Regions from separate parts of the Homo sapiens genome. Here region 2 is linked to region 1. The links come from fine-mapping of genetic effects on plasma protein levels. Region 1 holds a variant in brackets. A gene starts in the other region. All regions are shown on one strand. Distances are from middle to middle.

Region 1 (2,909 bases):
AGGTCCCAAACATCCACTAAAACTTTAGAGTGACCTTAAACTCCTTCCCTTAAACCAGAGCAGACCACATTTCAGCACTGATCCCACAGGACATGAGCAGTTTCCTCAGACAGCAGGGATTCTGAAGTGCCAGGCTATTACCCTTTCCGACTGCCTCTCTGCTACAAAACAGGGCTTAAGATGCATCTGAAGAGCACAGAACCAAAGCTGCCTGGAACCATGTGTCAGGCTGATCTCAGCTTGGCACAGCGGGCACAGGGTCCATGTGGCGACAGGCAGCCCAGCTCCAATCCATGCTTAGCTGACGCCTAGACAGGCCGTGAAGCCAGAAGGCCAACATTCCTTCTGGGCCACCAGAACCTCCCCAGCACCAAGCCTACCGGACAAGATGCAGACACAGGACATTTGGCCATGAGGCTCCAAAACTGCCCCACAGCCCCCTCCTGACATTCCTGTCTGACAGATGGACTCACACACACCCCAGTACGCGAACCCTGGGCTTAAGTTCTGCCATCAGTCCTGGCAGGAGAAAAGGAGCTGTTTCGAGGCCAGCCTGCAGCGCGAGCCCGCCGAATCTGCCCTCAGAAGATAAGAGGCACCTCTCCTCAGGACCTGCCACCTCAGTGCGAACACCATCAGTGGCATGAAGGAAGGAATATGACACTTGTCAGGGGCATTGTTTCCATTGTGGGGATTCAGAAAGAGGAGAACAGAAGCAGGAACAACGCTCAGGGGGAAATGCACCGGGTGGAAAACAGGAGGCTGCAGATGGCGCAGAGGAAGGAGCTCAGCTCTGGGAAGAACAAGGCTGAGACCGAGGTCTGCATCTCCCCATAACTCCCACTGGCTGGGTGATCTTGGGCAAGTGGCCTGGGCTCTCCAAGCCTCGGCTTCCCTATCTGTGCAGTGGGGATAGGTGCCCTGCAGGTGTTAGATAGAGCCGGGGAACATTCAGTGCCTGCAGAGACATCTTAGTCCAATGCCAGGATTTGGGGGGGTGCTTCCCAGTCCATGGTGGGGGAAACACTTCCACTGAGGGAAGAGGATGTCGCTGCACTCCCCAGGAGGGAAAATAAGGGGGGACACCTGCAGCCTTTCACTCATTCTTCGCTCAGTGACTTCAGTCTGACCCCCACTGGGCCACATTCATCTATCAAGAACTTTATTTACTATCTGTCTCCACAGTGTGGCCTCTCTCTTCCTGTTTC[G/A]CCTGTTTGCAGCCTGCAGCAATAACACCCTGAAACAGAGGATAAGTCGGCCAGTTGTCCCTGTGGGCAGGGCCAGTGGTGCTGGGTGGAGAAGTTATTGGTTGGGGAGAGGTGATGCAGGAGGAGTAGGAAACCACAGGCCAAGCCAGTTTCCAATTTAACTTTACCAAAAATAGGGCTGGCCCTGTGCTTCCTGAGTTTATCTTCCAGCTGATTCCACTGGGAGGCAGGGGGAGAGGTAAGACTAATTATCATTCTCAAACCTCAAAAGTCAGAGTAGTCAGCCTTTTTATTTTCTTATTAATTCAGTGAGCAAACATTTCCTGAATAAGCGGTAGATCCTGGGGAGCCAGGTTCCTTGTCACCACCAAAGGTTCTCACTGCCTTTGGGCCCATTCACCCAACATGTGACCAAAGGGTCACAGAGTCCTAACAGACGTCCCAGTTAGGGAACTGCTGTGTATCCCAGGAATCAGCTGAATTATGATGCCATGGAGACTTGATTAGACTAGTGTGCTAAAAGCACAAGTTTGTTTCATTTTGTAAAAAATCATACACACGTGCATAATCAAAAAAAGGGTCCCGAGGTTCCTTGGGACCTAGGAGTGCAACCGATCTGACCCTCCACCAAAAGTTGAACTTAACCTCCGAGTTTTCTCCTCCCTCCCCTACCACCAATAAGCTTTGTGACTCTGTGAGGTACCTAATTTCCCCTGCCCCAGCTTTCTCTTCTGTAAAGATGATAACTGTGCTCACCTCTCTGTCGTGAAGGATGGGATGGGCACACTGCCACACAGCCTGGGTGCATGGCGGGAGAGGGCACAGCACACGGGCGCAAACTGCCCGTGCACACTTCTAAATGACTAATGGCATCACACTGAGACCTGCCTGGTTACACCCGGATGCCGTCTTGTGGCACGCACTGCATATTGATATACACTCCATTTTACAGCTTCATTTAACCAATGTGTTGAGTCCTGAAGGGCTTTAAGATATACCAAAGGAGGCCCATCCTCTAGGGGCTGTGTGGACAGAATAATTCCTAAAGCAATTCACAGCTGGGTAGTTAGTAATATTCCTCCAAGAAGAAACAAAAAGGGGTGAAACCAACTAATGAACATTAATAAAGAGAAGGAGCGAGGGTTAAAGTAGCTACCATTCAGGGCAGAGCTGGATCTACAGCAAGTGAGACACCAGGGCCTCATCCCAAAGGTAAGCACAGCCCTGGGGCCAGCGAGGAGGCCTGGGGAGGAGGCTGGGGCTGGAGGACACCCAGCAATCAAAACAGGGCTTGGGGGGCCGGGCACGGTGGTTCACACCTGTAATTCCAGCACTTTGGGAGGCCGAGGTGGGTGGATCACCTGAGGTCAGGAGTTTGAGACCAGCCTGGGCAACATGGTGAAGCCCCATCTCTACTAAAAATATACAAAAATTAGCCAGGCCTCATGGCGGGCACCTATAGTCCCAGCTACTCGGGAAGCTGAGGCAGGAGAATCATTTGAACCATTTGAACCCGGGGGGCGGAGGTCGCAGTGAGCTGAGATGGTACCACCACACTCCAGCCTGGGCAACAGAGCAAGGCTCTGTCTCAAAACCAAAAAAAAAAAAAAAAAAAAAAAAAAGAATAGGGCTGGGGAAAGGCTGCTGTCATGGCGAATAAGCTACTGGCTCAAGTCAGGCAGAACCACCAGAATGCCACAG
Region 2 (2,909 bases), 71 Mb before region 1:
GAGTGGTGATGACTCTTAACGAGCATGCTGCCTTCAAGCATCTGTTTAACAAAGCACATCTTGCACCGCCCTTAATCCATTTAACCCTGAGTGGACACAGCACATGTTTCAGAGAGCACAGGGTTGGGGATAAGGTCACAGATCAACAGGATCCCAAGGCAGAAGAATTTTTCTTAGTACAGAACAAAATGAAAAGTCTCCCATGTCTACTTCTATCCACACAGACCCGGCAACCATCCGATTTCTCAATTTTTTCCCCACCCTTCCCGCCTTTCTATTCCACAAAACTGCCATTGTCATCATGGCCCATCCCCAATGAGCCGCTAGGCACACCTCCCAGACGGGGTCGTGGCCGGGCAGAGGGGCTCCTCACTTCCCAGTAGGGGCGGCCGGGCAGAAGCGCCCCCCACCTCCCGGATGGGGCGGCTGGCCGGGCAGAGGGGTCCTCACTTCCCAGTAGGGGCGGCCGGGCAGAGGCGCCCCTCACCTCCCGGATGGGGCGGCCGGCCGGGCGGGGGGCTGACCCCCCCACCTCCCTCCCGGACAGGGCGGCTGGCCGGAAGTCTTAATGCAGACAGCATTATCAGTGTGTTCAAAAGACACGTAGACACGTTTTGCCTATAGACAAATGGGCAAAAGGAAACCCAGCTTTCTCAAATGAAGCACAAGTGGGCCTTAATTATGTGAAAAGGTGTTCAAGTTCATCATTAAACAGGGAAAGGAAAAGTTAAAATCATGCTGAGATATCTTTCATAGAAATGGCAAAAAGCAGGAAGTGCCACGTGTGGGCAGAGAGGAAGCACAGGAACTCTCACAAATGGCAGGTGTCATCGTAGACCAACACAACCACTTTGGAGAGCAGTTTGACTTTCCCCAGTTAAACTGAACATGTGAGCGGCCGGGCGTGGTGGCTCATGCCTGTAATCCCAGCAGTTTGGGAGGCCGAGGCGGGCGGATTGCCTGAGCTCAGGAGTTCAAGACCAGCCAGGGCAACACGGTAAAACCCCGTCTCTACTAAAATACAAAAAATTAGCTGGGCGTGATGGTGTGTGCCTGTAATCCCAGCTACTTGTGAGGCCGAGGCAGGAGAATTGCTTGAACCAGGGAGCAGGAGGTTGCAGTGAGCCGAGATCGCACCACTGCACCCCAGCCTGGGCGACAGAGTCCCCCTCCCCCACCAAAAAAACAACAAGTGAGCATCCTGCAACCTAGCAATGCCATTGTTGAACAAGTTCAAAGATGTTCTTAGCCTTATTAGTCCCAAAAGGAAGAAAAAAATGGAGGATTTGAGAATGTTCTTAGCTTTATTGCTAAGCGGAGAAAGAAAAACAACACATACCAAAAAAAAAAAAAAAAAAAAAAAAAAAAAAAAAAAAAACCTGGGTGGGAAATTAGGGCCATGTGGCATGAAAAGGAAGACCCAGGGGAAGTGTGGCCCATCTAGGGGTGTGGCTACTGCAGTGATCCAGCTGTATCACTGAACTTCCCTGGCATCATAGAGTTATATTGTGCCATTTATGGAAAAACTCTCCCCACTGCTCTTGGCTTTGACAGTAGGAATCAGGTTATATATGGTCTCTCGGTTTGAAGATATTTGTCATTAAAAACCAGAACAAGGGCTCTGAGATAGGGTCCTTTCCTGACCTACTCTGGTAAAGTCTTTATCCTCAGGATGCAAGGATACCACCCTCTTCCTGTGGAAAGTGTCGAATCACATGCAGAGCTCTAAGTCTTTCAGTTACTTTGGAGTGCAGAACCATTTCAGGTAAGGCCAAATATTTTAAACATTAGTATAGGAAATTAGAGGGCTCTTTAGTCTGTGTGTGCATGAGAAGTAAAATTGCACGAGAAGCAATTTATGTAAAATTTCGCTTAGGAAACATTGTTTTGGCAGGTTAGTAGTATGGTGTGCATTTCCCAGAAAATTCAGTGCCGTGAGTATTACCTTTAGTTAAGCATCTTAGAAATAGTAGCTCTTTATGGCTAAGTCAGAAATACTACCCTCAAATTCTATGTGACCCTAGTTATACTGTTGAGCCTTTCTGTGCCTCTGTGCCTTCATCCTTGAATCGGGGATAATATACTTACCTCCTAAGGTTATTGTAAGGATTAAATGCATGTAGTATAAATAAAGAGCTGAGAACAATGCATGGCGTAAAGTGATAGGTATTATTATATGCTTTTGTTGGCTGTTGATTGAAGGTGTTCGCTGTTTTGGGGGTGTCCTTTAATAGAGTAACTTGGTACTGTGGAAATAGCATGATTGTGAGCAAAAGAATCAGATGGTGGTGGCTGCAGACTTTGCTGTTCCCTTCTTGACTGTTGGTTATAGCCAATGCAGGGTAAGTTATAAAGTCAAGAGCAGAGCCGTTTTCACAATGGACATTGCTTTGTGATGTCTGTGAGCTTGAATGTGAGAATGATTATTTTAATTCTCTATGTAAGGACTTTAAAGTATTGGCTATTCGGTAGCTTGAAAACTCTGTAATCTCAATGCTTTAAACTGAGAGTGGAAAATCAATAAAGCAAAAGCATGAGGCCACGCAGTGTAGAATGAGTGTCTTTTCACCACGTAGGGAAATCTGTAGTCCTAAGAAAAGAGGGAGTGAGAATTCTGGCGAAAGGATTGTGCCTCTGCACAAAGTGCAGGATCCCAGGGTTCAGTACAGGCGCGAACGCTCCTGTGTGTTGACCACACTCCCACGGTTGCTTTTTCAGACATGCTGAGGGGGACTCTACTGTGCGCGGTGCTCGGGCTTCTGCGCGCCCAGCCCTTCCCCTGTCCGCCAGCTTGCAAGTGTGTCTTCCGGGACGCCGCGCAGTGCTCGGGGGGCGACGTGGCGCGCATCTCCGCGCTAGGCCTGCCCACCAACCTCACGCACATCCTGCTCTTCGGAATGGGCCGCGGC

Which allele goes with the higher level. Positions count from the first base shown, and alleles are read on the strand shown. Strength reflects both the effect of a copy and how common the allele is.
For the plasma level of the protein whose gene starts at base 1,737 in region 2, G is the high allele of the variant in region 1 and A is the other (moderate association).

What was found. PIP is the posterior inclusion probability: the model's chance that the variant is causal. Protein levels are from antibody-based Olink assays in UK Biobank. Linkage for the fine-mapping came from a reference panel and not from the study's own genotypes, which makes the PIPs less certain.
Region 2: GP5 starts here. The variant in region 1 is fine-mapped to the plasma level of the GP5 protein (UK Biobank, PIP 0.92).

The regions. Positions count from the first base shown.
Region 1 is chr3:123,112,456-123,115,364 of GRCh38, reverse strand. All of the region lies in intron 7 of PDIA5 (protein disulfide isomerase family A member 5), which reads right to left. Among named protein-coding and RNA genes, the nearest start is that of PDIA5, 47 kb to the right of the region's middle. The variant G/A (reference allele first, on the strand shown) is at 1,209.
Region 2 is chr3:194,398,094-194,401,002 of GRCh38, reverse strand. GP5 (glycoprotein V platelet) reads left to right here and starts at 1,737. Exons shown (of 2, transcript NM_004488.2): 1 at 1,737-1,765; 2 at 2,719-2,909. The coding sequence starts at 2,721. RefSeq lists enhancers at 1-353, 354-907.